Homo sapiens: one gene and its partner. The protein of the gene in region 1 purifies or fractionates together with the protein of each later gene. This does not show direct contact. Each region holds a gene or a part of one and is shown on either strand. Other genes may lie near its edges.

Region 1 (3,751 bases):
CTTCCCCACTCCCAGAAGGCCAGGAGGGCTCAGAGGCACTTCTGAGGATCTGGGAGTTGTCGAGGCGGACTCAGAGTGCCAGGGCTGGGTGCGGGCTGTCTAGGGTGGCCTGGACTCACCCTGCACAGGGAGCCCTCGCCTATGAGACCCTGGAACGGCCCCCTGGGGAGGGCAATGGGCAGCAGAAGAGCAGGCGCCGGTGGCAGAGCCTGCTGCCAGGACCCCACTGCAGCTCCCTTGGCACTCCCCAGCACACACGCGCATGTACACACACAGGTTTTCCAAGTGTTCAGGTTTACTGAGAGCATTAGGGGCAACAAGGGAGCCCTGGGCATCTGGGGACAAGGCCTGGCATTTGCCTGGACAGTGGCCCTGCAAGCAGCCAAGGATGGGGTCTCCACCACCTGTGCAGAGAGAGACAGGCACAGACGTGAGTGCAGCGTCCACGGCCTCCTTTGGGGCCCACGAGTGGTCAGGCCTCCCTGGGAGGGGGCATCCCCATCCCGAGGGTGGAACCAGGAGGCAGGATAGGGGGTGGGGTCCTACCTACCTGGTTTACTTGAAAGTGTGGCTCTCGGCTCCGCCCCGCCCAAAGCCTGCAGAGAAGGTGGAAAAAGTCAACAGGCTGGGGTGGAGGAGGCTGTGGGGTGGGGTGGGGTGGGGATGACGGGAGCATACCTTTAGGCCCAAACATGGCTGCGTAGCAGGGGTGGTTGCAGTAGGGTTTGCCTTCGTGCTGCAAAGAGAAGGGCCGTGAGGGGGTGCCATCACCCCTGGCCCCTGCCACCAGGGTGGGTCCCACCTACCTCAGCGTGGCCCCCAGAGGTCAGCGTCTTCCCACATTTCTCGCACTTCAGGCAGGGCCGATGCCAGTCCTTGCCCAGAGAGGTCACCCTCTCGGCTGCAGAGGCACAGACAGGCCCCGGTGAGACGCTGCAGGACGCGGCGCCTACCCACCACTGGCGTACCCGCCTCTTGCAGCCAGCTCTGCCCAAGGCCCTGTGCACTTAGCCCGCATCCGCCCAGCCTGGCAGCCCACCCTAAGGTCTCAGCACCCTCCATGAGGGGAACATCTCCAATCCCCAGAGCCAATACAACTAAACAAAGCGCGGGGTCGCTGGTCCCCGGGGCACTTTCGGGTGCGGCCGGGAATCTTGCTCCTGAAGGCTGGGTGGGGCTAGAGGGCGAGGCCGAGGGTCAGGGGTCGCGGCTTAGGTCAGCAGGGCCTGGGCCTGGCTGCCTGCTTTCAGCCCCGGGCCTCTGCGGTGGCAAGGGTGGAGCCTGCGACAGCCCTTCTCGGCGGGGACAGGGGTGACTTCCCACTTCCTCCCTCCCCTCGGGGCGCGCGGGCGCGGGGCAGGGAGGCGGGCGCCCGGGATCGCGCCCCGGGCGTCGGTTTCCGCGTCTGTTTCCACTTAGCGCTGGGGGGCGCGGCCCCAGCCCCGCGTTCCTTCCAGCCCTGCGGGTCCCCCACTCAGGGCGCGCCTGAGAGGAAACGGCAGAGACCGTAGGACCCAGAGACGGGGAGGCTCAGAGCCAGAGGTAGCCCGCCGAGCACAGCAAGACCACTAGCAGGCAGAGATCGCCAGGGCCCTCGGACGCAGGGGCCTCCACCCTCATCCCGGGGCAGGCGGCGGGCCAGGCTGAGGCGTTTTCAGGCTGGGGCGCCGCCCCAGGGACCCAGCGCCCCCGGTCCTCCTGAGCGGTCCCCAGCCTCGTCGCCCCGTCGGCGGCGCCTCCTCGCGGGGCCGGTGTGGGCGCGCTCACCGAAGTACACCTCCTTGTTGCACTTGGGACACTTGGGCATGACGGCTCCGGGTCCGGTGCAGGCGGCAGCGGCTGGGGCGGCACGGGCTGCAGGCGCGAGACTGGGTGGATCCGGCCTGGTCCGCGCCTTTCAGGGACCCCGGGACCCCGCCCCTTGGAGACCCCGCCCCTCGCGCCCCGCCCTCTGAACCCAGGACTTGGACCCTGGGGACCTCGAATCTAGGCCCAGGGCCCAAGAAAGATCATCTGGTCCACCCCCGCCTTCAGGCAGGACCCGGGCCTGACTGAGGACGGAGCGCGGGGGGGCAGGGGGCCATGGGGACTTACTGAGAGGGCGCAGCTCTTTAGGCGAGTTCAAGCCGCGCCCCTAGCCCAGCGCTGTGATGTCTCCCGGGTCCAGTTCCGAGGCAAAAGGCTCACCCGCAGCAGGAAACGCCGCTCCCACCCCCAGCCCTACCCCACCGGCACCCGCCCGAACCCCAGATCTGCCCGGGCCAGGACTGGACCAAACATCACTAAAATGCAAAGAGATGCAAAGCAGCCCGCGCGCTGATCCTGCCCTCCCCAGGACGGAGGGTCGGGGACAATTGCCGGAGAGCCCCCGCTGTTGCCCCCCACCGAGGAACCCACTCTGACCTTCCATCCCACGCAGGGTTACGAGGCCGCCCCTGTCAGTCCCCTCACTCCCAAGGGACGTCCCCGCCTCTGCTAGCTCCCCTGACCTCCGCTGCTCTGGGAGGTCCATCGGACCGCAGCGGGAACATCCCCGGGGAATTCAAAAGCGGGGACTCCCAGAGAGGGGAGCTGTAGCTTGAGGACCGATCGGCTGCGGGGGCTGCGGGGGCTGGGGTTTCGGCCGGCAAAAGAGAGTTCAGCCACCCCCAGGCCGGCTCGGAGATGCCCGGACCGGGCGCAGGGAGGGGCCCTTATCTCTGCGGGTAGCGCCCAGGGCGGCCAGAGCGGTCCAAGTACGCTGCAAAGTTGAGGCGGAGGATGGTCCCGGTGCCAGGCGGAGTCTGTCCCGCCTCACCCGCCCCCCAGATTCAGGAGGGCCAAGGGGGCTGCGCTGGCCTCGGGCTTTGGGGTCAGCCCTCTAGCTGACTGGCCAGCCTCAGGAAGGGAGCCCAGGTCACTGTCAGCCCCCTCTCCTGTCACTGAGCAGGGGAGCCCTCTCTCTGCAGGCCCTTCACCTCCATGCTGCATGGAGCTCCCTGGGAGCTCCCACAGCACAAGGGCGGTGCTGCCCTTCCTCCCCACCCACCATCCCTCCTGTCAGCCATGTTAACCAGCGTCCTTATCTCCCCTCGATCTCCACTGGGCCTGTGCTGGCCCTGTCCCCGCTGGGGGCGCTGGAGACCATCCTCCTGGGCCCCAGGAGCCGCTGGCCTACCGCTGTCGGGCCCTGAGCCCTAACTGCACCTGTGATCCCAACCTCACTTTCCCTGAATCCTACCGCACCCCTGTCGGCACCTCGAGGCCTGCACTTAGAGGAAGAGAAGCCGCCTGCCCTGCCCTGTCTGCCACCAGTCCCCAGCTTGGGGAGAGGGCAGGGGCAGCAGGGCTGTAGGACGGCCAAGGCACAGGCGTCTGGCACAGAGGCCACACTCCAGAGAGCCCCACACCAGCACACCCAGCCCAAGGCCACATCCTGCTTGCCCTCCTCCTGGCGCCCCTCTAAGGCCACAGTTCTGTCCCCCGACTGGGGCTAAGTCCTGGGGTCTGATAGGACATTCCACAGGGGCCCATTGGAGCCCTCCTCATCCCCCATTCTGAGACCTCAGAGATAAGGTTTCCAGAGTAGGGGTGCGCTCCTGTCCTGCAAACTTGGAACCCCCACTCTCCAGCCCATGAGCCTTGAAACCCACTCTGAGGTCTGGGCCCACCTGCCATCTCCACTGAGTGTGGGGCATCGTGGGACAAACCTGCAGACAAGCAGAGGGAGAGGCAGAGGCACCAAGAAGGGGGAGAGGCCAGGGGAGCCCGG
Region 2 (3,306 bases), on another chromosome or scaffold:
CCCTGCTGAGACTGTGGCTGGATCAATGAGTAAGGTCTGCCTGGTTCCAGAGCGAAGAGTGCTGGCACAGTGCCCCTTACTGCATCACTGGATTACATAAAAGTGAAGGGAACATCTAGCTCAAACATGCTATTGTTTTTGTACCAGTCTGGACAGAGGGCATGCTCAGGAAGCTGACAACAGTTTCAAGTAGAGAGAGCGGCACAGTCTGAATTAACTCACTTGGTCAGGGCACAGGAGAACAAGGCCCAAGGCACAAGTGTCAACTCTGATGAGATAGTCAGTTTATCAAAGCCAGAGCCATGTGTGGTGATAGGTGCCTATAGTTCCAGTTACTTAGAAGGCTGAGGCAGGAGCATCACTTGAGCCCAGGAGTTAAAGGCTATAGTGCACTATGATCACACCTATGAAGAGTTACTACCCTCCAGCCTGGGCCATATAGTGAAACACTGTCTCAAACCAATGAACAAATAAAGAAGTCAAAGGTGCACTGCTTAGGGTCACATACTGTAAACTTAAACCCTGCTAACCATGAACTGCAACCCTCAAGTCTGAAAGAGGACTCTGGGAGACATTACACAGTGCTCTGTCCACTCACAGGGTCTGTAAGAATTCCCTGAACTTGTGATTTGCATTAGACAATAATAAAATATTTGTAACCACTCCAAAGAAGGTGGACAGTGGATTGAAAAGAACCCAGAGGGCTCTCCCGCTCCACTCAAGCTCTCAAAGGCCAAGGTGTTCGCTCTGATGAGAGGTGTGAGCTGTAGGTTTGTTCAGCAAGTGCTGGGGCCTTACCCACCTGCCCCCTTTGGTCCATCCTGTGGGCTGTGGGGACCAGGCCCCTGCTACTCAAGGCCAAGGTAGGAAACAGTCTTTCCTGTTTTCTTCAGGGTTGCAAGCAGAGTGTCCATGCTGTGCTCAGATTCAATGCAGACCTTCTTGTTGGGCAGGTCAATGTCATACTTAACTCCTGCAGGAAGAGGAAATGGGGTATGGGGAGAGGAAGCACAGACCCTCCCAGTTACAGCAAGAAAGAGTTCAGGCTCTAAATTACTACTCACAACCACCCTTGCCCTTTCCTCTAGAGCAGGGATCGGCAAACTTCTTCTGTAACAGGCCAGAAAGCAAATGTTTTAGGCATTGTGGGTCACATATAGACTCTGTTGTATATTCTGTGTATTTTTTTTATAACTCTATTCCTGAACATACAAAAACAGGCTGTGAGCAGGATTTGGCCCATGTGCTGATCTCTGTTCTATACTAGGGCTTTCTGAGACAGAGACGCACTCTGTTGCCCAGGCTGGAGTGCAGTGGCATGATCTCAGCTCACTGCAACCTCCACCTCCTGGGTTCAAGTGATTGTCATGCCTCAGCCTTTGGAGCAGCTGGGATTACAGGCGTATGCCACCACACCTGGTTAATTTTTGTATTTTTAGTAGAGACAGGGTTTTGTCATGTTGCCCAGGCTGGTCTCAAACTCCTAATCTCAAGTGATCTGCCCGCCTTGGCCTCCCAAAGTGCTGGGAGTATAGGCATGAGCCACCGTGCCCAGCCACCTTTTTTTTTTAATTGCAAAAGTAATATAGACACTTTTTTTTTTTTTTTCAAAAAAGCAAACATTTCTAAATAAAAGTAGAAGCAGTAAGGCCCCCTACTGATCCTGCCCCTAGAGATCACTGTGAACAGTCTGGCTTCTATCTAGACTTTGTCCTAGATAGACAAATGAAAAATAATTCCTCCAAATCGCATCACACTATATAAACAGGTCTTGCTAATATTTTACTTTTCTCTTTATTTATTCATTTTTATTTATTTATTTATTTAGAGACAGGGTCTCACTGTGTTATACAGGCTGGAGTGCAGTGGCACAATCACAAATCACTGTATCCTTGAATACCTGGGCTCAGGTGATCCTCCCTTCTCAGCCTCCCAAGTTGTTGTGACTACAGGCACATGCCACTATGCCTGGTTAAGTTTTGTATTTTATGTAGAGACAGGGTTTCGCATATTGCCCAGGCTGGTCTTGAACTTCTAGGCTCAAGCGATCCGCCTGCCTTGGCTTCCCAAAGTGCTGGGACTACAGGTGTGAGCCACTGCACCCGGTCCATTCTTTTTTTTTTTTTTTGACACAGAGTCTCGCTGTGTCACCCAGGCTGGAGTGCAGTGGCACAATCTCAGCTCATTGTAGCCTGACTCCCGGGTTCAAGCGATTCTTCTGCCTCAGCCAGCCTCCCGAGTGGCTGGGATTACAGGCATGAGCCACCACACTGAGCTAATTTTTGTATTTTTAGTAGAGATGGGGTTTCGCCATGTTGGCCAGGTTGGTCTTGAATTCCTGATCTCAGGTGATCCACCTGCATTGGCCTCCCAAAGTGTTGGGACTATAGGCGTGAGCCACAGTGCCCGGCCCTATTCTTTTTTTAAAAGCTACAATCTTCCACAGTGTGGACGTACCACACATCCACTTAATTAATCCACTGTTAAAGGTCATTGAGGATGCTTCTAATTTTTCACCACTATCACAATGTTATAGTAAACATATTTGAACTTGTCTTAAAACACTTATAAAAATATTGTTATACCATGAATTCACAGAATGGAAATTGTGGGGCAACAGATATTTGGCACATTTTGAATGTTTAATAGACATTGCAAAATCGCCCTCCTAAATGGCTATGCCAATTTACAGCTCCCCAGCAGCACATGGGAGGACCCAGAGTTTTACTCTGACAAAAGAGTGCAAAAAGAAAGGAAAACTCTTGATAGGTTCTAGGCCTGGCCTCACCATTGACTTGCTGGGTGACCATGGGCAGGGAGTCGGTGGGAGGAGGGTCCTGCTTCTCACAGGCCTCAGCTACCTCATCTGTACATGAAGGAGTCAGGGCTGGCCAGCTCCTGTGGCCTTTCCAGCTCAAGGATGCCATCAGTCTGTGATTCCTCAGCCCTACCACTGTTCTTTTAGGGCCATAAGCAACTCAAAAAACCCTCCTGACCCTTCTCAAGAGGCCACCCAAGCAGGGACAGTAGGAAAAGATGGGCAGAAACCTGCCGAAGCTTAAAGGCAGATCTTCCAGCAAGGGGCCTTAAAAATCATATGGTTGGCCAGGCGTGGTGGCTCATGTCTGTAATCCCAGCACTTTGGGAGGCTGAGGCGAGTGGATCACTTGAGGTCAGAAGTTCAAGACCAGCCTGGCTAACGTGGTGAAACCCCATCTCTACTAAAAATACAAAAATTAGCTCAGTGTGTGGCATGTGCCTGTAATCCCAGCTTCTCGGGAGGCTGGGGCAGGAGAATCACTTGAA

What was found. Proteins that work in one complex are often made in the same cells at the same time.
Region 2: the proteins of CRIP1 (region 1) and ATOX1 fractionate together in Homo sapiens (co-fractionation; one large-scale study listed by BioGRID). This does not show direct contact.

What each region holds. Positions count from the first base shown.
Region 1 is NC_000014.9:105,485,316-105,489,066, reverse strand, and holds CRIP1 (cysteine-rich protein 1), read right to left. Parts: upstream 2,182-3,751; 5' UTR 2,095-2,181; intron 1,869-2,094; 5' UTR 1,808-1,868; coding exon 1,768-1,807; intron 902-1,767; coding exon 807-901; intron 737-806; coding exon 679-736; intron 597-678; coding exon 556-596; 3' UTR 551-555; intron 405-550; 3' UTR 120-404; downstream 1-119. UniProt on the Homo sapiens protein: Seems to have a role in zinc absorption and may function as an intracellular zinc transport protein.
Region 2 is NC_000005.10:151,745,477-151,748,782, forward strand, and holds part of ATOX1 (copper transport protein ATOX1), read right to left. Parts: intron 974-3,306; coding exon 849-973; 3' UTR 803-848; intron 1-802. UniProt on the Homo sapiens protein: Binds and deliver cytosolic copper to the copper ATPase proteins. May be important in cellular antioxidant defense.